Linked DNA regions of Homo sapiens: all the other regions are linked to region 1. The links come from fine-mapping of genetic effects on plasma protein levels. Region 1 holds a variant in brackets. A gene starts in each other region. All regions are shown on their forward strands.

Region 1 (8,268 bases):
AAGAAACGTGTTCTTTAAATTGGTGATTCTCATCGCCCAGAGAATTTTAAAATAGAGAAGCTTAGGCCCTGCTCCAAGCCTGAATCTCAGTGAATCTTCCTATAAGCTGTGGATGGAACTGGGGAGAGAAATCAGCAGCCGCAGAAAAAGATCACCAGTGCTTAGCTCTGTTTTCTCTGCTGTCAACTGGTTTTTCTTCTTGTCACTACCTTAATCCAAGCTTTATCCTGAGGCAATAAGGTACCCAATATAGTAATGCTAAATTAGTGTAATTTTAGTAATATTAAACAAAAAGAGAAATAAGCAGAACCAGGAACGTGCTATCAGCCTTCTACAAAGAATTATTATTCTAATAAAATAATTTTGTTAAGTTTGTTTTAAAACTTTTGTTAGTAATGCCATCTTAACTAAAAATGGTTAGAGGAAAGATAGTATTGTAAATCATATATAAATATAGATGGTTTTCCCCCACTATTTGTTAATGCTTTTGTGACTATGCTATCCCTTACTCAAAGATCCTCCCAAGAATGATGATGTATTGTTTTTTACTATTAAGATTTATGTTTATTTATTTTGAAAAGCAGTTTTCACATTGAATGGTCTAGGTTTAGATGCATGCCTAGAGCTAACAGGTGGGAAAAAGAAGAGAGATTTAGTTTTTGCTGTCTTCCCCAGTCTCCTCCTACACGGTTACCAGTGCTATTTAGCCTTTCAGTAGCTGCTCAAGGAATACACAATTAAATCCCCAGTGTCCACCCCCATAGGTCATACATGATTTGTATGATGTCCACAGTACCCACCAGCACAATTTCCTCTGCTACTCATACCCTCTTTGGGTCTCAAAAATTCCTAATAATTGCGTGCAATTCCCAGACTTACTACTAAACTGTATTATGTCTCACTGTTTTCCCACAAGCTGTTTTCTATGCCTAGACTGTCTTCTCCGATCTCATTATGTGCTCCTGGCAACCTTTGACTTCTGTTCCCGGAGCAAATGTTTTCTCCTTTGGGCAGTTTTCATTCACCCCTCCCGAATTCCCTACTACTTTCATTCCTTCAACCAATGAATATTGAGACTTCAAGTACAACTTCTATGATTACACAAATTACAATCAGTTGCAATCATTTATCTCTAAGCTAGTCTCCTCTAGATTCTTGATTACTTGAGAGCGTTTCTTTCCCTCCTCTTATTCCTCAGCCCCTAACACGGAGCCTGGCACGAGGGCAAGGGCTGGCCAAAAGCAAAAGACTCATCTGCTGCTGGGACACCAGGAAGCCAATCTGCATTGATTTTCCTTTCGGGCATTTCAAAGACAATTTGGTTTATAAAGTTGAGAATGAAGCCTCTAGCAAGAGCAGGCGAATTCCCCAGAGGGTTCGGTCTACAGAATCGCCAACGCCCCCGCCGATTACTCATCCGTGACTCCAGCGGCGTCTCAACCACCACCTCCAGAAAAAACGCGCCAAAATGTTTTACAACTGCCTCCTCCCACGCTTCAATGCAGACCAACTTCCCAAGCAGGGGGCGAGGGCTTGATTCCGAGCCAAGGAAAGGAAAGCTCTAGACTAGAAGTCACACTCCCTAGGGTCCCCTCGGAATCGCTCAGCTATAAGCAGTCTCCCACTTAATGTCTTGACGCCCACCCACCTCCAACCAGCTACCTATCGACCAAGCCTTCACTTGGACAGGCAACAATAAGCTGAAATTCCCGGGAAAACGATTACGTACTTGGCTGAAGAACAAGAAAGAAATAGATCCCTTCCCCATAGTCAGTTCGGCATCTCGACCCTGCAGTGGGACTGGCCGGGCAAAGTTATGAAGCTTGGACTTTATAAGTTCCCAGTGAAAAGCCGGAGCTCCCTAGAGAGTCGCGGGGATAGATGGTCCCGTGTCTTTCACCCACCATTTCTCCCCCCAGCTTCCCAGGCTACTCCGCGGCCTCCCAACCTCCTGGTCGCGAGTCCCAGCAGCTGGCACTCTTCCAATGCCCTGGGCGTGCCCTTACAGGCTGCCAGGGCGGACAGCCCCAAGCCTGCTTAGCCCCTTGCATCAGGACTTGGATCTGATGCTGCCATATTGAAAAGAAGGCAACAGCCGGCTCCTGACGCAGACCGCCTCAGTCCCGGGGGATGGAGCGCACTGCTTCTCCCGGGGGCGCTTGGTTGGTAAGAGCTTGAGTGTATCTCAAGTTCCCTGAACAAGCGTGGAGGGATTTTTCTTCCAAACCGCGCGGGAACGGATTTCAATTCTAGAGCGGCCAACAGTAAGCATAAGCCCTACCCAGCTGCAGCGGCTTCCTTCTGCTTGGCTGCGCCCAGCCTAAACAGTAAATAATGCAAGCTTTCTCTCTCTCCAAGCGCGACAGGGGCGAGGGCTGGAGCAGCTCCTTGCTCTTTGCTACTCTGGGCTCTGGAGAGTGCAACCTGGGGCTCCCACTTGGAAGACCGCGCTCCAGTCCCGCCAGTCCCCTGGGGCCCCAGAAAGTTTCTTGAAAGTGGAAACTCTTACCTGACCCAAAAGGTCATAGCCCAGCTCCTCGGCGATGGCCGAGGCTGCTTCCGGGCCCCCGGGGATCTCCGCTGCCCATTCATTGACAAATTGCCTTTTCGCTTTTGCACTGTTCAGTGCACACCAAGCGCAAAAGAGGACGAAAGCAGTGCACTGCAGACTCCAGGCTCTTCGCTCCATAGCTCACACACTCGCTTGAACAAGAGTGGGAAGGGAAGAGGAAAAAGAAGCAAGATAGGAGAAAAGCCAGACAGACTCCCCCTTCCCACCCTCGGGCTCTAGACCACTCCTGGCTCCTGGTTGCTCTGCGAAGAGCTAGGAGGCGCGAGAGGAGAGGCTGGGCGGCGGCGAGCGCTCAGTGAAGCGCTTCGGTCTCCAGGCTGAGTGGAGCCCCAGCCCTTCCCAGCCAGAATGGAAATGAGTGTTTACACGTCAAATCGACGAAAGCCATCTCTTGACGTCAGATCTACCTGGACTAAGATCCGAATGGTATTCCCGGCGGGGCGGAGAAGCGGCTAAAATAAGCAGCCAGGGATTAGGAAAAGGAAGGAACTGTTTGCTGGGATCAGTTAAGTCTGCTCCTTGTCTGCCCATAAATTCTGTACCGTGAGAAACATTTTCACTTTTCAAAGAGAAGTGCCCCACTTGAACATAACTACCAAGAATCAAAGGCTGGGAGTGCTTTCCCTCCCTTCCATCCATTTTCTCTGTATTTACTTTATTATCTCATGTGTGTGGCGGGGAGGGGGGGAGGCTATAGGATTCTTATAATGGCCCTTTGGGCATCAGCACCTGCTATGAAGAACAAGGCTCTTAGGTCTTTCAAAGAGAGAGGCTAGGAGAGTAAGGAGAAGAAGGGAAGCTACTACTGTCCCAATTCTGTTCTAAATTGTCTGAGAAAATTAGCATGTCTATGTTAAAGCAATACTATTAAAAATGAATTTTTAACCATTCAAGCCACCTTAGTTTACAAGTTTACTTCCCTCCTCCCCTTTGTTTCTCAACCTCAGTAAAACAATATCAGTAGTTATACTCCGATATTGCAAAGCCAGCGCCACCACCACCTTTTAGGGTGTTTATCAGTAAAATGATTAATCATGTGATTTTAAAAAAACATATTTTTAAGAATTCGTCAACAAGGGGATCTAGGATCCCAAAAGCTGTTGTGTTGATTCAGGGAGGGAAAGAGCAGTTTTTATTTACCTCGACTTTCCATTGTGCCTCAGTAGAGCTCTTCACTTTGGTGCTGAGCTGGAGCTGTGCCATTACTTTCCCATAAAATGCACAATGCCTCTTTGTGGAAAAATGGTTTCCTGTGGGAGGAGAGCAAG[G/C]AAACATCTAAATGAATTCTCCACCCCTCACCCTAGGGAAGTGAGTTCAGTCTCCCATGGTGGAGCCTATTCGAACCCTGAGGGATTGAACCTGGCGGGAGATACCAGTGCCTAGTATTCAGCACCGAGGTCTGGACAGCGACACACGCAGGACTGCCGCAGGAGCTGCTCTCTCTTCTGAGCACCAAAGACCTCCACCCTTCTGCAGCTGGCCAGCACCAAGCTGTTTTCCTTTTGATATGTGCATTTCCCTCTTTTGAACAGCAAAATAGGAAATTGGCCGCAGGGGGGAGTGTGGTTAGGTTCATGATCGTGACAACTTGTGTCCAGCTCTTGGGAACGTGTTGGACTCAGGCCAAAAGTAAAATCGCCGGGAGGTGGAATTGAGAGAGTATGCTGCACCTGGGAAGTTTGTTTTTTTTTTTGTTGTTGTTGTTGTTGTTTTTTAAAGCTCAACCGCCCGAGGGCGCGATCTATGCTGTAGAAATAGAAGAAAGGGGAGAAGGTTGGAAAGAAAGCATATAAACAAGTGGAGAAAGGAAGCAAGAGATGTTCCTTACAAGAAGCAAATGAGACAAGACTTGGTGGAGGATCAGGCTCTGTAGTGCTAATTTTTCATTTGCCTCCACGTTTGCAGAAATGTGCACTACATAATTTCTTTAAACATAAAGCATCTTTACAAAATCAAATGCCAATGTTAATAAGCCATGTGACATGGTTAAGTGTTTTACAATAATGTAACTCACATGAGATGAAATGGAATGGGCTCCGATTGATAGCTTTGTTGTCTGTTCTGTAAATCCACATGTGTGAATGTTGATGGCTGGGTAAGCTGTCTTCTTTTCCCTTCACACCTCGGCCTGAGTTGTGGCCTCAAGCTCTCAAGGGTGTTTCATTCTCACAGCAGACAGACACTAACTGTGCACTAGCAAGGCAAGAGAAGCCCAGGGCAAATGTTTTATAACGGTAGATGTGTCAGAGGAGGAACATATTTGTCCCTTTCTTATTATTGTTCAAGTAAATCAGTTTGGCAGAGTGTTGGCAATAGGGTCCGTGTCTCTCTCATTAATGAGGCATTTGTCTTAAATGGAGCACCATAGAAGCCTGGAATAAACATTTGGTTTATATACCTAACAGGGCCAAGTAAACTCTCACAAAAAGAAGATAATATCCTCATCCACACAATACAGATATCAGTAAGTTAATCTGCTATTGTCTGATTTTTATCCTATGAACCTCTTTGCCAGAACTTCTGGCATGCAGAAGAAATAAATTTCTGCCAAGACTAGAGGTGCAAGTAGATTTAGAATCCATTTTAACTTTTTGTTTCAAGGGCTAGTCCTACCCTGATTTGTAGATCATGGTAGTGACCTCCAGGCCCATCAGTGTTATATTTCGTATTATAAATTGGAAGAGCCAATTATCACCCTTAAGTTGGTTTTAATAGCATTTGATTCATGTGATTAATTTATATAGAAAACCGGATACTCCAGAAATTAAGAGGACGTGTTTCCATTATAAGTTATCAAGTGATTGCCATGCCTTTCATGATGCTCACAACTGCCCAGTGATACAGCTAAGCATTCATTAAGGTTTCTTGGAGAGTAAAAGAAGCTATTAAGAGCAGGAAGTAAGAATATGCTCAAAGGAGATCTATAGATCACCATATCTCTTTAGTCTTAGGAAACAAATGTTTTAAACATTTTGTTACTACGAAATAAAACATATACCCTTGGGCATACTAAACAATGTACCCAATATTTATCACAAAGTGGACACAGTGTAACCATTTGGGCCAAGAAAAACATTTCTAGACCCACAGAATAACAGAATAATATTCCTAGATCTTCAAGAGATGTTAAAGAATGGGTAAGGAAATAATGTAGGTTTAACATTTTCCAGTTATCATGTAGACTTGCCTGTTTGCTATGGGTAACATTAACTGCACATTAACTCAAAGGTGTAACAAATTAGTCTGTAATTAAACTAGAAGATTTTTGGTAGCAGAACACATTATAGGGGCAAACCTACCTATAGCAGTGTTTTCCAACATAGAAAATAACAATATTTGTGTGGCACACTGGGGTAAACTGGAGGAAATTTGAAGACATCTGTATGGAGCTGGGTGAAGAGATTCATAACATTTTCTTTACATGATACAATTATGATAACAAAATAAAATATAACATTTTGGGCAATACATTAAATTGCATATTAATAACTTTAAATTGAGAAATCTGAATATGCTTTCACCAATATAAGTTTTTATCTGAAGTTTTATGCTTAAAAAGGCTATATATCATTTCTAATTAAAACATTTTAATGACAAATGATCTTTTTATATTCTTAATAGCTGCTGTCAATGAAACTTTTTTGCAAAATTCTATTTTAAATAATATAGCCGTCTTTATTTTCTTGACATATTTATCATTGGAGTTCTATATGAAAATGCCTATAGATTCAGAATCCATCTAAATTTTACAGGTCAAGTATGACAAAATAATATTGAAATTGTAAATTGGAAAATACACACACCTTTTAGAGAAGTTACCATCTACCAACTTTACCACAAATTGAGAAAAGTATCTAGTATACACAAAGACTGATATTGGGGTTACCACTTAAAGATACACCTGCCAGAAGTCCCTGAATTACTTTCTCATGATATCTCCTCCCGTGACCAAATTTTGGTGGGTGTGCTATGCTAATTAAGTACTTAGAGTATGAACTCCTCCAGCAGATCCACAGACACTTTTCACATGATGGAAATAGACATGCTTGCAGCAGGTTGCTGAAGTAAATACAGCATCAAGGTGGTGGACACGACTTGGTTGAGTTCCAAGAGCTCAGCAACAAGCTACTCACCTGGCCTTCCCAAGTGATTAGAAGACCAAATATCTTGAGGGACATCTTTAATTCTACTGGTTGGGATGCTCTGACCTATAGAAATGGAAGTAAAAGAGTAAAAAAGCAAAGTCTATACACTGCAAAGGCTTTGAGGTGGATGAATAATTATGAAGGATTTTTGCTGAATGAACTAGATAAACACAAAATCTTGAATTTAATGTAGAATTGAATTGAATTATTAAAATGGAAGCAGTGAGTGCCATAAATTCCACTTGCTAGAAATAATTGATCTTTTCTAATGAAAATGGATAATTAAATGTGGCCATATACAAGTATTTAGGTTCTTTCTTTAACAGGTTCTTTTAAAATATGCATTTACTGAGTGAGTTGCAGAGCATCCCTGCTTCTGCTTGCAGGCAATGCTCTTGCTTCCTCTGTGCTCTCAAACATTGCCATTTTCGTATTAAACTCTCAGTGCATAACTGCTGTCTCTGCTCCTGAAGTATGTCTTTCTATGAGAATTATAGACTTTAGTATTGAAAAGTGACCTTGAATATTATACAGCTCCTTGCTTCTCAAAGTCTTGTCCACATACCAGCATTATAGGCATCACTTGGAAGCTTGTTAGAAATGCAGACCCTCAGCCCCCACCCCAGAACTACTGAATCAGAATCTGCATTGTTAATGAGTCCGTAGTGATTCATACGCAATTAAAGTTTGAGACGCACTGATCTACTTAACATGCCTGGTATACATGACACTCCTCTGTGATATTTTTTAACAAGTTGTTAGGCAATTCCTGGTCTCCCAAAGCAACCCATTCTTTGGTTTGGATTGGCTGAAATGGTTACAAAGTCCTTCCTTATAATGATATTATAAAACCTTTCCTCATTACTACCTCCAGTCAAGCATGCTAATTTTGCCCTCTAGTACCACACTGACAAGTCTCAATCTCTTTTATACATGATAGCAATTCATACTTCGAAGGCAGATTGTTATATCTTGCCTAACTTTTTTCTGCTCTAGGTTAAACATCCCCAACCTTTTTAACACTTTGGCATTCTGCTTGCTCTTGTCCGGATAGGGTCTTTCAATAGAATTTTTTAAATGTGGCACCCAGAATAGAATATAGTATAGTTGGCCAACTAAAAAAAGATAATTTATTTTTCCAACTTTTTATTTTGAAATAACTTTATAGTTACAGAAAATTAAGAAAAAACAGTACACAAAACTTGTGTATACCGTTCATGCAGCTTTCCCTGGGGTTTACATCTGGTGTAACCATATTACTATTAGCTAAACCAAAACATTAACATTGATACAATATTCTTAACTCATTTATAGACCTTTATATTTTTCCAACTGTTCTATTAGTATATCTTCTTTTATGGTCCAGTATTCAATTAAGACTCCCTATTGCATTTGGTTATTATGTCTCCTCCAAACTGGGATATTTTATCTTTGTCTCTCACAACCTTAAAACTTTTGAGGAGTACTATTCAGTTATTTTATATTATGGTCCTTAATTTTGGTTTGTCTGGTGTTTTCTAATGATTAGGCTGGGATTAAACATTTGTAGGA
Region 2 (8,000 bases), not on the chromosome of region 1:
TCGTGCCATTGCACTCCAGCCTGGGGAACAAGAGCAAAACTTCGTCTCAATAAAAAAAAAAAAAAAAAAGGCTGGGTGCGGTGGCTCACGCCTGTAATCCCAGCACTCTGGGAGGCCAAGGTGGGTGGATCACAAAGTCAGGAGATTGAGACCATCCTGGCTAACATGGTGAAACCCCGTCTCTACTAAAAATACAAAAAAATTAGCCAGGCGTGGTGGCAGGCGCCTGTAGTCCCAGCTACTTGGGAGGCTGAGGCAGGAGAATGGCGTGAACCCAGGAGGCGCTGCTTGCAGTAATCGGAGATCGCGCCACTGCACTCCAGCCTAGGTGACAAAGGGAGACTCCATCTCAAAAAAAAAAAAAAAAAAAGGGATCGGGGTCCCCTCATCTGAAAAGACTGAGTCACACAATTCCCTCCTTTATTCCTCCTGCCCTGGCCCTTCCTGATTCAATTCCTTGGTTCACATTCCATAACAATAGTCAACTCATACGAAAGCTCTGAGAAGCACTGTGTAAGCCCTTGAATCCATAAAATAATTTCATCCTCACAACATCCTATGAGGTAGGTTCTATTTATATCCCCATTTTGTGAATGGAGAAACCAAGGTGCAGAGATTACCTTATTATTGTCTTATTATCTGCCACTCCGTATAGGTAACAGATCCAGGATTTACCCCAGGCCATCTGGGCTCAGATCTATGTTCTTAACATCTACATGATACAGGCCAGGCGCAGTGGCTCACGCCTGTAATCCTAGCACTTTGGGAGGTCCAAGCAGGTGGATCACGAGGTCAGGAGTTCAAGACCAGCATGGCCAAGATGGTGAAACCCCATCTCTACTAAAAATACAAAAGTTAGCCGGGCGTGGTGGCAGGTGCCTGTAATCCCAGCTGCTTGGGAGGCTAAAGCAGAGAATTGCTTGAACCCGGGAGGCGGAGGTTGCAGTGAGCCAAGATCGCGCCAGTGCACTCCAGCCTGGGTGAGAAAGTGAGACTCCAATTAAAAAAAAAAAAAAAAGGGCCAGGCACAGGGATTACATGCCTTCAATCCCAGCGCTTTGGGAGGCCAAGGTGGATGGATCATCTAAGGTCAGGAGTTCGAGACCAGCCTGACCAACATAGTGAAACCCCATCTCTACTAAAAGTACAAAAATTAGCCGGGTGTGGTGGTGGGCACCTGTAATCCCAGCTACTCGGTAAGCTGAGGCAGGGAAAATTGCTTGAACCCAGGAGGCAGAGGTTGTAGTGAGCCGAGATTGTGCCACCACACTCCAGCCTAGGTGACAGAGCGAGACTCCATCCCCCCCCAAAAAAAAAGAAAAAGAAAAGAATAGAAAAAAAAAAGAATGCATTCATAAGCCTGGGTAACATGGCGAAACCTCATCTCTACAAAAAATTCAAAAACTAGCCGAGCGTGGTGGTACATGCCTGTGGTCCTAGCTGCTCGGGAGGCTGAGATGGGAAGATGCTTGAGCCTGGCAGGCAGAGGCTGCAGTGAGCTGCGATCACGCCACTGCACTCCAGCCTGGGCGACAGGGCAAGATCCTGTCTCAAAAAAAGAAAAAAGAAAAAAAGAAAAGAAAGAAGCAAACATGCATAAATGAATAAAACATTTATTGGGAAGGGAGATTCTGTCATCTTCGGACAATTAACCACCAGGAAGTCCCGCCAGAGATCTAACCATAGTCTCTCCCACTGTAACAGCAGCACACAATAAATCCTCTCTGGCTCAGTGCTCACTTTGCACTCACGCTGCCGGCAGGTATTTCCCTGGAGCTTCCTACCTCTTAGCCTGGATTCCTTCCCTTTCTCATCTCCCCCTAGAAACAAATCCAGAACCTGTCATCCCCTAACCCCTCCTCTGCCCCATCCCTTTCCTCTCACCACTCCTACCTGAAGTGACCCTCTTTCTTCTCTCCTAGTCCCACTGCCAGGAACAGGGACAGCAGCAGCAGAGCAAAGGTCTTCGTGGCCACCATCTTCCAAGGTTATTTCCTGAGCTAAGACAGAAAAAAGCCAGGACATGTTGAGAGAGCAACCAGTAGGGGTTCTGAAAGCTGGAGAGGGGCAAAGCCCTGAGGTTTGGACCCTTTCTTTTCCTTTTTCTTTTTTTTTTTTTTTTTTGAGATGGAGTCTCGCTCTGTCGTCCAGGTGGGAGTGCAGTGGCACAATCTTGGCTCACTGCAACCTCCACCTCCTGGGTTCAAGCCATTCTTCTGCCTCAGCCTCTCGAGTAGCCTGGACTACAGGCATGTGCCACCACTCCCGGCTAATTTTTGTATTTTTAGTAGAGACAGGGTTTCACCATATTGGCCAGGCTGGTCTCGAACTCCTGACCTTGTGATCTGCCCACCTGGGCCTCCCAAAGTGCTGGGATAACAGGCGTGAGCCATCGCGCCTTGCCAGTTTGGACCTTTTCTAAGAGCCTGGGGCAACACCATGGGGGAAGATGAGGGGTGCTGTGCACTGGAGTTAGTGACTAGAAGGGACATGGAATCTTACCAAAAGATGGACCAGGCTGGGTGCAGTGGCTCATGCCTGCAATCCCAGCACTTTGGGAGGCCCAGGTGGGCGGATCACTTGAGGTCAGGAGTTTGAGACCAGCCTGGCCAATATGGTGAAATCCTGTCTCTACATAAAAGACAAAGATTAGCCAGGTGTGGTGGTGCGCGCCTGTGATCCCAGCTATTCAGGAGGCTGAGGCATGAGAATCGCTTGAACCTGGGAGGAAGAGGTTGCAGTGAGCCGAGATTGCGCCAGTGCACTCCAGCCTGGGTGACAGAGCGAGACTCCATCTCTAAATAAATAAATAAAGGAAACATCAGCGCTACCTTCTCATTTCTCTTTCTCTTTTTTTGAGACAGGGTTTCGCTCTGTCACCCGGGTTGGAGTGCAGTGACACAATCGTGGCTCACTGCAGCCTCGACCTCCTGGGCTCAGGCAAACCTTTCACTTCACCCTCCCGAGTACCTAGAACCGCAGGCATGTACCACCATGCCCAGCTAATTTTTTAAATTATGTGTAGAGATCGAGTTTCCCTCCATTGCCCAGGCTGGTCTTGAACTCCTGTGCTCAAATGATCCTCCTACCTCGGCTCCCAAAGTATTGGGATTACAGGCATGAGGCACCGCACCTGACTATCTTCTCACATCTCATATAGAGGAAGAGAAAACTAAGATGCCAGGGCTGCTGAGCATCTCAGGGTTGCCAAGATCCATCTGCTCTCGGGTCATCTCATCCATCCCTGTCTCCACTTCTCTTACCAGACTTCCTTTCCAGCTCTTCCAGAAGAAGGACAGATAGGGGTCTCCTTCCCCTGATTTCTGGACCTTCTGAGCCTGCTGAAGAAATCATGCCCCAGCTCCTTTATATTAGGCATAGACCTGCTGATTAGCCTAAAAGCATCTTATCTCAAGAAATTAAGCCCACAGCTCCTGCCACATTAAGTCCATTTTACACATAATAGAGTTGCCCTTTCCACCTGAACTGTGCTAATTGGTGATTAACATTTGGCTATCTCCAGCTGCTGTCTGGGGCCTGCCTGTGGGTAGGGTACCCTAAGTACCCCCTTTTTTCTTCCTCCTCCTCCCTTCTGGGCACAGGGCCCACTACTATTCTTCTATGCCCTACTTCCTTTACAGTTGCCCTCAGTTAGAAGGGATACTTGTAGGCCAGGCGCGATGAATCACGTCTGTAATCCCAGCGCTTGGGAGGACGACACGGGCGGATCACCTGAGGTCAGGGGTTCGAGACCAGCCTGGCCAACATGGTGAAACCCAGTCTCTACTAAAAATACAAAAATTAGCTGGGCATGGTCGTGCACGGCTGTAATCCCAGCTACTTGGGAGGTTGAGGCAAGAGAATCACTTGAACCTGGGAGGCAGAAGTTACAGTGAGCCAAGATCGAGTTCACTGCACTCCAGCATGGGCAACAAAGAGAGACTCTCTCAAAAAAGAAAAAAAGAAAAGAAAAAAGAAAGGGGGCCGGGCGCAGTGACTCACGCCTGTAATCCCAGCACTTTGGGAGGCCGAGGCGGGTGGATCACGAGGTCACGAGATCGAGACCATCCTGGCTAACACAGTGAAACCCCGTCTGTACTAAAAACACAAAAAATTAGCCGGGCATGTTGGCAGGTGCCTGTAGTCCCAGCTACTCGGGAGGCTGAGGCAGGAGAATGGCGTGAACCCGGCAGGCGGAGGTTGCAGTGAGCCGAGATGGCGCCACTGCCTGCCAGCCTGGGCGACGGAGCGAGACTCCATCTCAAAACAAACAAACAAACAAAAAAAAAAAAAACAAACAAAAATTAGCCAGGCATGGTGGCACGTGCCTGTAGTCCCAGCTACTTGGGAGGCTGAGGCAGGAGAATCGCTTGAACCCAGACCTGGAGGCAGAGGTTGTAGTGAGCCAAGATCGTGCCACTGCACTCCAGCCTGGGTGACAAAACAAGACTCTGTCTCAAAAAATAAAAATAAAAATAAAAAAGGGTACTTGTAGTGAAGACAGACTTGGGGTAGGGTGGCACTAACTGGCAGGGGGACACTCCCACAAGGCAACAGGCTACTTCTGGGTGGGAGAGAGTAGGTCCACAGTCATCTGAATCCCAGCTCTGGACAGTGGCCTATGGCTTTGGTGATGTGGCAATGCCCCCATCACATTATCTAGAGAGGTGTCCCAAGGGCTCAATGTTGAGGGAATATGAAGGATCGGGGTTTCCTAGGGACAGCTGGATAAACTGAGAACATACATTCAAGCTGTCTTCCTGCTCAGGGGCAGGATAAAGCAGGAGAAAGAGACATGTTTGTACCTCAGGGGCTCACAGGAGGGTGGGGTAGTTACAACTTTATCTATAGAGATTTAGGAGCCCCTCTCCTCATATGTCCTACTGTCCTGTACAAGAGAAGTATGTCATCCTGTCTCTTCTATCAGAGTGAAGACCCTGGAGTTATGCTGTGCCTCTCTATTATACAGGAGCCACTCCAAGGCAGGGGCTTTCTGTCCCTGATCTGCCTGGGAGCTCTCTGAGAGGAGGAGGAGAGCTGGAGGCGATGTTCCCCCAGCACACTGAGGCTTTCTGAGGCTAAGGGCTGTGTCTCCCCCTCAGACTGGAGACTCCTTGGGATACTCCCTTTGCCTTTCTCCAAGTACTTAGCACATGGCTCTGTCCACAGGGGCTCTCAGTCTAGAAGGGGCAGGGCACAGATTGCATTTTTGGCAGACCTCCAAGGCGTTCTTTCCAGGCTCCTCCTCTGCCGCCGCCATGGGTACTTGGGACCATAAACAGCCAAGCTCATGCTCTGCCTATCAGCTCCAGGTCCTAATAAAGGCCACCTTCCTTTCCAGGTGAACACCCTAGCCTAGGAGCAGATCCAGCATGAAATTAAGTGTGCGTGTGGGATGAGAGGTACCTGGACTAGCAGGGTCACTTACCTCTGCCTCCTGGAAACCTCCTCTGCATACCCACCCATTCTCCACCATCTAGAAAAACTCCTCCCTTAGCAAGCTCTCCAAATTCCATCTCCCAGCTACCAATGGGCAGAGATTAGACGTCGATTCAGATTTGACCTCCAAGGGAGATGTGAGGGCTGCTTGTGATCTTGTTTTCTGCTGAGCAACACAGTTAATGAGCTCAGAAGGGCTTGTGTTCAAATCTGCCTCCTGCCTGGAGGCAACAGTATCCAAGAAAAGTGGACAACATTCCCTGGGAACCCTGAGTCTGGGGCCAAATTGGAGTCAAGGAAGGCTCTGTGATGGGCTCTAGCAGCCATGAGCCCCTGCCTTGTACTCTGTGGATTTGTTTTGGGGGTGGGCTGCTCTGAAGGCCAATGTACTTCATTTTGTTTATTAATTTAGAGACGGAGTCTCACTCTGTCTCCTAAGCTGGAGTGCAGTGACACGATCTCAGCTCACTGCAACCTCCACCTCCGGTTCAAACAATTCTCCCGCCTCAGCCTCCCGAGTAGCTGGGATTACAGGCAAGAACCACCATGCCCGACTAATTTTTGTACTTTTAGTAGAGATGGGGTTTCACCATGTTGGCCAGGCTGGTCTTGAGCTCCTGACTTCAAGTGATCCGCCCGCTTCGGCCTCACAAAGTGCTGGGATTACAGGCGTGAGCCACCGTGACTGGCCAAGCAAGTGTACTTTAAGTCCCCACCCCACCCCCTTCTCTGCAGCCTCATCCCCATTTCTCTTTGATCTTTGGCCCTCATGCCCTGCAGTGCACAGACAAGAGAGAATATGTCCTGGACCCTGTAGGCAGGGAAGAGCAGGGCAGGCAGGAACAGGGAATGTGGGGAGGGCCCCCAAGCCTAGAGCTCCTGCTCAAGTCTGCAAGTTCCACACTCCCCAGAAGCAGCAGAATATGCGAGGAGGGCCAGGGGAGATCAGAGATGAAGCCAAACTCCTAGGGGGTTCCACAGCTCCCCCAAAAGGCATATTGGGAGGCAGGAAATTGAAAAGATGACCCTGGGAAGTTTCTGAGGATTGGAAGAGCCTGCTGGACTTGATCAAAATCATTTAATAAATCCAACTGGCAGTTAAGCCAGCCTGTCCACACCATAAGGAGAAGCGCCCTGGTGTGCAGAGTTCTGTGCAGGTTTGGGGTTGGGGGTGGGGAGGAGGAGGCTCTGGAATTAGCAGAGCCTCCCTCTTCCCATTTCACTATGGAGAATTGCTAGCATGTGAGGGGTCAGAGAGGACACAGGGGATGGGGGTCAGGAGGACACCCCAACTAGCCCAACACCCACACAAGTTGAAAGAGTGTGTGGGGGCCCGGCACAGTGGCTCACGCCTGTAATCCCAGCACTTTGGGAGGCCGAGGAGGGCAGATCACAAGGTCAGGAGTTTGAGACCAGCCTGGCCAATAAGTGCCGATAGTCCCCACTACTTGGGAGGCTGAGGCAGAAGAATCACTTGAACCCAGGAGGCAGAAGTCGCAGTGAGCTGAGATCACTCCACTGCACTCCAGCCTGGGAGACAGAGCGAGACTCCATCCCCCGCCAAAAAAAAGAAAGAGTGTGTTGGGTTGGGTTGGGGGGTTTCTGAGGTGTTACAGGAGTTAGGTAATCAGGGGAGTGAGATTCAGAGAAGGGGTGATGGGCAGTGCCATCGCAAGAGAACCCTGGGTCCCATTTCCCAGCCCTTCCTGGGTTCTGACTGGGCCCTCAGGAATGAGAACTGTAACAGCAGAAGAGCATCTGGGGTTTGCTTGCTCTTCCAGTCCCCACTGGTGACTCACCGCCACCCCCACCACCATCCCCATCCCCCTCGCTGGCGCAGACATTCTGGCCCAGCTCTGCAGCCAGGTCAGGGTGACTCAGAGGGCTGGCTGCTGCCTCCCCGCCGTGGACCCTGCTTTTGAAGTTCACTTAGTCTTCAAACTCACAGCTGACTGAGAAAGCCGACTTCCCTCTCTGGCTTCTCTCACACCAGTCAACAGATTTCTTCTTAGGCAGAGGAGGAAACAAGAGGTGACTTGATGCCCAACAACTTTGCCAAGTCCTCCGGTCTATCCTGATGCTTAGAGGGACTATCTCCAGCTTTTCCCCACAGTCACATCACACACACAGTCATGCTCCCAAACATTTTTGCCGACAGCATTTCCCTTAGGTCCTGATAGATACTTTCCAGAGGGGTCTTCAAGAAGAATATATGGCCGGGCACAGTGGTTCCCGCCTGTAATCCCAGCACTTTGGGAGGCCTGGGCGAACGGATCACTTGAGGTCATGAATTTGAGACCAGCCCAGCCAACATGGTGAAATACCATCTCCACTAAAAATACAAAAATTAGCTAGGTATGGTGGCAGGCGCCTGTAATCCCAGCTGCTTGGGAGGCTGAGACAGGAGAATCACTTGAACCCAGTGGGCAGAGGAGGTTGCAGTGAGCCGAGATCGTGCCACTGCCCTCCAGCCTGGATGACAGAGTGAAAGTACGTCTCAAAAAAAAAAAAAAAAAAAAAAAAAAAAAAAGAATATGCTATCTATAGCCTTTATGGCCATC
Region 3 (8,268 bases), not on the chromosome of region 1:
GGATATGATGCCTTATCTCCTGAGGCTGGGTCACAAAAATGATTGTCATGAGTTAAATTGTGCCCCCCCTGAAATTCATATGTTCTAATTCATAAGTCCTAACTCCCAGTACTTCAGAGTGTGACCTTATTTAGAAATGGGGTCTTTGCAGATGTAATTAGTTAAAATGAGGTTGCCAGGCGCGGTGGCTCACGCCTGAAATCCCAGCACTTTGGGAGGCCAAGGCGGGTGGATCACAAGGTCAGGAGTTTGAGATCACCCTGGCCAACATAGTGAAACCCCATCTGTACTAAAAATACAAAAATTAGCCGGGTGTGGTGGCGCGTGCCTGTAGTCTCAGCTACTCCAGAGCCTGAGGCAGGAGAATCGCTTGAACCCGCGAGGCGGAGGTTGTCGTGAGCCTAGATCATGCCACTGCACTCCAGCCTGGGCGACAGAGCGAGACTCCATCTCAAAAAAAAAAAAAAAATGATGAGGTCATACTACAGTGTGTGAACCCCTAATCCTATAGGACTGTTCGCCTTTGAAAAGGGGAAATTTAGACACAGAAACAGCCATGCAAAGAGGGAAGATGATGTGAAGAGGCACAGCTCAGACACCCATCTTCAAGGCAAGGAGAGAGGCCTGGAACAGATCAGAAGGAATCAACCTGCCAACTCCTTCATTTCAGACTGCTAGCCACAGGAACTGTTGTTTAAACCACCCAGTCTGTGATTCTTTGTTATGGCAGCCCTAGCAAACTAACCAGCAATGCCATCTTCATCTGATTCTCTTTAAATACTCCAAGCAGGAGACCAGTTACCATTTAAGTCCAACTACCCCAAGAATATCAGACTGGGGAGGCCACATGTAGGTACAATGGTCAACAGCCCCGGCTGAACTCAACAGCCAGCACTAGCATGCGAATGAGCCTTCTCAGGCATCAGCCCAGTGGATCCTTAACCACAACCCTGCCAACCTCTGATAGTATCCGCATGTGAGACTCAAAGCAAGAACTGCCAGGGGGAGCACTTCCTGATCCTGACCCACAAAATCCTGAGTGATGTACAATGGTTGCTTGAAGCTGCCAAGTTTTAGGGTAACTTATTATACAACATAGTAACCAGAGTGCTTACCTTCCCCTTCCCTCCCTTGCCACTGGCCGGAACACAGATGAGGCCATGGTGGGCTGTCTTCAGTCCTGTAAATGACATAGATGAGGGCATGGGGAAGCCACAAACGAGGAGCCTGGGCTCTTGGATGCCCTCATGGAGCACAACTGCCAACTCCCCACGTGCCACTCACATTTCATGCAAGAGAAATAAATTTCCATCTTGTTTAAGCCACTGTTAATTCCACCTGTTTTTTTTTTAAGCCAAATCAATATCCTAGTAATATGATATATGTAAAACAAACAGCTCAGTGTCTCGCACATAAATAAGTGCTTTTTGGAAAAAATAATTATTGCTATTGTCATTATTATTATACTAATAATAATTATTAATAATGTTATTACCCTAAACTGCTCAACACTCCTCAAAATGAACATGAGGTGGACCCATGTCACTGATGGTCAATGAGACATGTCAAGCTGGGCAGAAATTGTCTGTGGTCATGCCTAACTCATACCAGGTCTCTCTTCCATCCGCCTTAAACTGACTATAGCTCTCCCAGGCAGACCAATAGACAGGGGATCATGGACACCAACACACAGACACATCCTCCCACTCCCCACCCACACAATGAACCAAAGCTCAGGGCAGCCACTGTGTGCTCTCGTCCCACCTGTCCTGTTGCAGGAGAGAAGACAGGAGGCAAAATAGGATGGAAAGTGGGTCTAAGATAATGAGTGGGGAGAGGGAGTCAAAGAAACTAACTCCATCCCCAAGAAATCAGGCAAGGCTTCCAGGAGGAGGTGACCACTATCCTGAGAGTATCTTCCAGGCTTAAGAGAGGGAAAGGGCTCTGCAAGGAGGTAAAGTGGCCTGGGCAAAGGCGCAGAGCATCAGAATCCACATAGCCAGTGACCTCCACCTGCCTCCTCTGCCTCATCCTTTCAGCTCTACCTCCAGGGAGGCTGGAGGGCAGCACAGGGGAGGGTGGGTGTCAGAGCCCTGTGGCCCCCAAGGGACCTGTGTCCAAGCAGGGAACTTCTCTGCAGCTATGGCAGAGTCAGCTTTAGAGTCTTCTCTCCTTCCAGAACCATTGAACTGCAAATACTCCTTAAAAACCCTGATCCAGCCCAGGCGCGGTGGCTCACGCCTGTAATCCCAGCACTTTGGGAGGCCGAAGCAGGCAGATCACGAGGTCAGGAGATTGAGACCATCCTGGCCAACACGGTGAAACCCCGTCTCTACCAAAAATACAACAATTAGCTAGGTGTGGTGGTGAGAACCTGTAGTCCCAGCTACTCGGGAGGCTGAGGCAGGAGAATCACTTGGACCCAGGAGGTGGAGGTTGGAGTGAGTCAAGATCGCACCACTGCACTCCAGCCTGGGCGACAAAAGCAAAAACTCCATCTCTAAAACAAAAAACAAAACAAAAAAACCCCTGATCCGCTGCAAGGATGCCCCCAGCCTTCCTGTCGTTTTTCCCCTCTCTGGGTCACAGGTTTTGAAGTCAACCTGATTTCCCCCCTCATCTCCTAGTGCCCTGCTTCAGATTTGGGCAGGTCTTGCTGAACTGGAGTCCCAGAAGAGAGCCCACAGATACAGGAGGCTGTGTCCCAGGAAGGAGACATAGGCCCTTCCTTCTTGAGGCCCCAGGAGGGAGACAGGACACAGAGACATAGAACTCTCAGTGAACAGAGCAGAGGCCCTGAGAGCTGGGCAGTTAGAGAGGGCAGGAAGAGTGCAATTGGGCAATCAAGGCAAGCTTCTTGGAGGAAAGGGGCAGGGAAGGGTGGATGTCAGGGGAGATCAGTCTGCAGGCAGGCTCTGGAATAGGTACAGAGTGGTGAGGGATTCGAGTTGGATTCCAGTTTAAACATCCACAGAGCCTTTAGGCTTCAGTAGCTAGTCCAGGGGAGGGGGGTACATGGAGGGTGTCCCTATGGCCTTGTCACTAAGAAAGAACAGTTCGTGACTTATCCACTGCGTGTGAATTCAGCGAGATTGGGGAGGGAGGTTTCTTAGGGATAGGGCAGCCTCCACACTCCCATTGCTCCTCTACTCAGGGAAAGGGGGACGGTAGAAATGGCCTGCCTCTCCGGCCAGCACACGTACAGCCATCTCACCCCCACACGGCTCTTCCTCCACAGCCCCATTTTGGATTACACTTCACCTCCAGCCACTCCAGCCCTGGGCGCTAGTACTACAGCTCCTGGGGAAACGCCCCGGGGTGTTGGTGCCCGACTCGTCCCCCAGCCGTCTTCGGCTTCACGGGGTGGGGGAGGGACAGCCCTGACCCCATCTGCTCTCCTAGGCTGCCTAGCAGGCTCCTGTCGCCGCTCCCCGCCCCTTCTTCCAGAGTTCCATCCACTCCTGCCCCCACTCGACCAGAGTTCCTTCCACAGCAGTTCCTGGCCTGGGCGCTGTCCAGCTCCAGGCTGGGTGGTCGAGTCTTCCCTGGGCTCCGAGCAGAGGGAACTCCGCAGCCCGCCCCAGCCTTGTCCTGGGGCGCCTCTGTCCAAGTCGGTTTTCTCTTCCCTGGCCCCCACGCCTCCACCCTCCACTTCTACGGGATGCCACCTCCACGAAGGAGAAAGGAAAGGAAATACAAAGGCATACATTCCGTTTCTGTGGAATTTGCTCTTTATTTTGGGACCAGGGAAGGACCACACACAGCCCTCCAGCCCAGGGGGCGGGGGCACCGAGACGCGGGCGGAGGGCCGCACCCGAACCCTGCCCAGACGCCGCCGTCGGGAGGCAGAATCCGGGTTTCTGGGGTCGGGAGTGCGTATGCAAATGACGTGGGCGTGGTTGGCAGATCTCCCAGGAGGCCTCAGGGGTCCTCACCACAGGTCTGGGCCCTCCGACCTGCGGAAGCGAAGGGGAAGGAATTGGATCTGGGGAGGCGAGCCTGGGAGACGTCGTTAAGTGATGTTGCCAGGGTAGGGCCAGGCCGCGCTCTCGGATGCAGGATGTGTGGTAACGGGCGCTTTTACCGCGACCTGACGGGGCGGTCCTCGCCGTCGGGGAAGAACGTTTTGGAAAGAAGCGTGTCCGGGCCGTCTCTTTTCCCATACCTGGGGGCGGGGAAGGGAAGAGCGTGGTCAGATCTGGCCACGCCCCCAGGTGGAGCGGGGCCGCAGGGTGAGAGCCCCAGGGGTCCCGCTCCGCGCCTGCGCTCACCGCTGCCGGGTGACCAGGTTGAGGTAGTGGCGCAGGGAGGCGTAGTAGCGGTTCAGCTCCTCCGGCGAGGCGTCTTCGCGGGGAGCCTCGGGTTTGATGGGGTAGGCGTCGACCAGCGCCCCTAGGCAGACGAGCAGGGCCAGAAGCACTGTGGTCAAGGCGGGCCACGGCCTGCGCACGAACACCATCTGGGAAGGCGACATTGGGACGTGGGTCATTCCAAGCCTCGACCCTACACGGCGGGAGGCTGCGGCTGCCGTCGGGGCCGCGCTCCGACGCTCTCCCTGGGGCTGGTACCGGACCAAGGCTCAGCCACCGGGCTTGCTGTGTGTTCTTGGGCACTGCACCGTCTCCTGACTCAGTTTCCTCATGTCAGAGGAGCATAAGCCCTGCCTGCCTCCCCACCCCCACCCCCGCTGCTGGCCTCCTTCCCACCTCCGATGGCCCCCTCCAATCCAGTTTCCTACCACTCACCCCCAGCTTCCACCATCCCAGCCTCAGTTTCCCCACAAAACAGCCTGGGTTTCCCCAGGCTTGAGCCCCCAGCCACTCACAGCGATAGCTTGTGAAGCAGACGAGCAGGAGGTGGAAGGCGAGGGAAGTCCCAAGGGCTGCACTGCCGCAGGTCAAGCTGAGGCCTCCTCTGCTCAGCGCTTTCCTTGTGGGGCTTATATCCCCGCCTGGAAAGGGAGGGGGAGTCCCAGGGGGAGGGGGAGCCAGCAGGGGGTGGGCCCTTCTTCCTCCCTCCTTCCACCCTCGCCAGATCGCTGAGCTTATACCCAGCCAGTGCGTGATGTCTCCACCTCGCAGGAGCTGAGGGGGCAGTTGCCATGCTCAGATTCGTGGTCTCACTGGATGGGGTACCCAGCCTGAACCCCATGTTCACCCCACAGCCCCCCAGTGGCAGGTCTAGCCTCCTGAGGAAGTGAAGCGGTTGGATCTAGACTCCTGGGGCAGCCCCTAGGACCAGGGTTGAGATTCTGTCTTCCCTAGCCTGTCCGTGGATGGGAGTTGGGGGTGGGAGGGTGGACACATTCCCTCCAGTCCGTGGGATGTGTGACCACTCTTTCCAAAAGACAACCCTTTTCAGCCTCTGTTCAGTAATACCTTGGAGAAGGGCTGAGGAATGACAGGACCTTTTGGGGAAAGTCTTTCTCCTGGAGGCAGGGTGGGAGCACCTGACCTTGGCTCCTGACCTGCAGTTTATGGTGTCTTGGGGAGAGGCCTCTCTGAACACTCCATTATGTCCTCTCTCTATTAAAGAGTTGGAAAAGAGGCAGGAGGAGGCAGAAACCAATCTCCCCGCCAGAAGCAGCTGAGTCGGCCACCTGTGTATCCAGACTGGCACACACAGACCCCAGTCCAGCCATGTGTGGTATAGAGCCCCCTCCCAAGGCAGAGTGTCTCCACCCCTATGCAGGTGTCATTCAGAGCACTGGTGTCTTCTGGGCCTGAGTGATGCCAAGGCTTCCCAGGCACATGCCACTGTCCCCAGCCCATGGCAGTCTCCACTGGGCTCTAAGCCCAGATCCTTTGAAGGAAAGGACTCGTGTTTATTAAGCACCTACTATGCACTAGGTAGTGCATAATTTCGGGCATCACAAGACGATGAGCTGAGTTTATCTCCATTTTCCAGATGAGGAAACTGAAGCCCTGGGAGGTGATGGAGCAGCCAAGCTCACCCACAATTCAAACAGGAAAAGCAGGGTGAGGCAGAACCCAGGAAGAGGACCTCTCAATTGTGAGGGGCAGAAAGGCTCAGCACCTGGAGTAGCCATTGGGGCGCCAGAGGCAGGCCTGGGAGCAGGGACCCGAAGACTAAGTCTAGGGCCCACACCCACTCTGAGAGGCGGAGTAGGGGAAGGACCTTCAGACTGCCAACCCCCTCAAACCCACCTGCCCAGGAGGAGAAAGGGCTGTGGGAAGGTCTCCCCATAAAGCCCTTCCAGCTTCCTCTCCCTGGCCTCGCCAGACCTCCAGTACTTCCAGATGTCCCATCGGCCCATAGGGACTGATGGGGCCAACTTGTCCAGGCCCTTGGTTCTGAGCCAGCCCCTCCAGCCCCAGGACAGATGGCTGTGGGCGCTATTTTTAGAGCTCTCCTGAGATGGGGAGTTCAGGGCTCTCTGTCACCATTTTATGGGTTCAATCACCTGCATTCTCCGGAAATGGCTCCTTATCAGCCAGTCAGGCCCCATGGGACTCCACATCCCAGGAAACACCAGGGTGCCCTGCTGAGCATGGGGGTGGAAGAGGACACCAGGACAAGGGGACATAGATCCTGCCCTTGGAGGGAGGAGAAAAATCATTCTTCTTAGGGAGCCCTCATCCAGGGGGCAAGACACACCCCTGCCCTTCAAGAACCCCAGTCTCAAAGGAGAGATATGGCCATGTCATAGGGGAGCCCCAGTATGAGCGGTTCCCAGAACAGATACAGAGAGACAGAGACAGCCTTTGTCCTGTTTGGAGGGGAGACAGCAGAAATCAAATAATTCCATTCCTCCATGGAAAGACAAAAGACAGGTGCTCACCCTAGGATGGAGGGAGCAGTGGGGGCTGGTTAGGACATCTGTGATCCCAGGGATCAGGGCCTAGAGAAGGACCCTGCAGGCTAACGGGGGCAAGGATACCAGAGAGTAGGGGGCTATTTGCTCTTCTGACCCTGCGGCGGCACTAACCATGGTGCTGGTAGGGGATTTCTAGTGCACCGATTCTGGACAGAGACGAAGGAAACTGTGAGATGGCCATGGGGAATCTGACATCCCTGGAACCCTGTCATGTCTTGGGGAATGTGGAGTCCAAGGACAGATGGGAAGAGAGGAGAGACACTGTAGAAGCTAGAGGGCATGGGGTGGCCTGAATTCGGGCTACAACCTCTGAAGAAGTCACTTCCTCATTTATAGCCAAAGTAAATGGGCCCCTAGGTGGTCTCAGTGTGGACCAGGAGCCAGCCGCACATCCCCGCAAACCCTCTCTATCCCTCATACCCCCACCCTCCAATCTCACTCCCCAATTACAGGGCAAGCTGATTGGTTCATTAATCACCGCCTCCTCATCGAAGAGCTTATTAACTTGTTGATTAGCGGGGAAAATGTCTCAGCCCTCGATCAATGGGCTCAGCCACCCCCCGATCCACACACCCACACCCATCATTGCTGCATGACTCAGTGGCCATGAGACATGTCTAGGGTGTGAGGGGGGAAACTTCAGAAACAATTGTTTTTGTAGAAGTGAGACCAGGACCTGCCTCCGGTTTGTCCTTGAAGGGTGGGGGACAGAATCAAAGGGGAGGGGACAGAATCAGAATGGTCCCCATTCTGAGAGCACCTGGCAAGGCCACCCCAAGTCAGGGAGACCATGGACCTGGACCCCAGCCAACAATTCTCCTTGTCCAGTGGGCTCAAGGGCCACTCATCAAGATGGTGTGGCCTCTGCCATTCATCCCCAGAGGCTTAGAATTCTGTACCCCATCACCCACCTGCCTGTACCCACTCCCCACACACAAGGCCTCACTTTGATCACCATGCACTGTGTGGCACTGCTCCACTGCTTTCCACCCTCAGGCATTTCCTCATGCCCAGGGTCCTAGAGATAGCAGGTTGTCATACAGCAAGTGTAATTCAGGCCAGGCGTGGTGCTCACGCCTGTAATCCCAGCACTTTGGGAGGCCAAGGTGAGTGGATCACGAGGTCAGGAGTTCAAGACCAGCCTGGCCAACATGGTGAAACCCCATCTGTACTACAAATACAAAAATTAGCCAAGCGTCGTGGCGCATGCCTGTAGTCCCAGCTACTCTGGAGGCTGAAGCAGGAAAATTGCTTGAATCCAGGAGGCAGAGGTTGCAGTGAGCCAAGATCGCGCCACTGTACTCCAGCCTGAGCGACAGAGTGAAACTGTCTCCAAAAAAAAAAAAAAAAAAAAGTAATTCAATCCTCATTCAACAAGCACTTAAGTCCCTGCTGTGTGCCAGGCACTGATCTAGGCACTGGGATAGAGT

Alleles and levels. Alleles are on the strand shown, and positions count from the first base shown. The strength of an association depends on the size of the effect and on how common the allele is.
In carriers of allele G in region 1, the plasma level of the protein whose gene starts at base 3,343 in region 2 tends to be higher than with C alone (moderate association).
With allele C in place of G in region 1, the plasma level of the protein whose gene starts at base 4,916 in region 3 is lower (moderate association).

What was found. PIP is the posterior inclusion probability: the model's chance that the variant is causal. The UK Biobank Pharma Proteomics Project read protein levels with antibody pairs (Olink). The fine-mapping took linkage between variants from a reference panel, not from the people measured, so its PIPs are less certain.
Region 2: GIP starts here. The variant in region 1 is fine-mapped to the plasma level of the GIP protein (UK Biobank, PIP above 0.99).
Region 3: PYY starts here. The variant in region 1 is fine-mapped to the plasma level of the PYY protein (UK Biobank, PIP 0.99).

What each region holds. Positions count from the first base shown.
Region 1 is chr5:96,430,354-96,438,621 of GRCh38, forward strand. It overlaps PCSK1 (proprotein convertase subtilisin/kexin type 1), which reads right to left and starts at 2,895. Exons shown (of 14, transcript NM_000439.5): 1 at 2,510-2,895. The coding sequence starts at 2,689. All of the region lies in intron 4 of LOC101929710 (a long non-coding RNA gene), which reads left to right. It also overlaps a transcript of CAST not described here and the pseudogene LOC102724070. RefSeq lists silencers at 3,772-4,066, 3,928-4,047. The variant G/C (reference allele first, on the strand shown) is at 3,841.
Region 2 is chr17:48,965,254-48,973,253 of GRCh38, forward strand. GIP (gastric inhibitory polypeptide) reads right to left here and starts at 3,343. Exons shown (of 6, transcript NM_004123.3): 1 at 3,264-3,343; 2 at 1,894-2,000. The coding sequence starts at 1,979. RefSeq lists enhancers at 929-1,429, 1,430-1,930.
Region 3 is chr17:43,949,025-43,957,292 of GRCh38, forward strand. PYY (peptide YY) reads right to left here and starts at 4,916. Exons shown (of 4, transcript NM_001394028.1): 1 at 4,826-4,916; 2 at 4,272-4,459; 3 at 4,085-4,165; 4 at 3,709-3,956. The coding sequence starts at 4,459. The coding sequence ends at 3,932. RefSeq lists an enhancer at 3,951-4,454.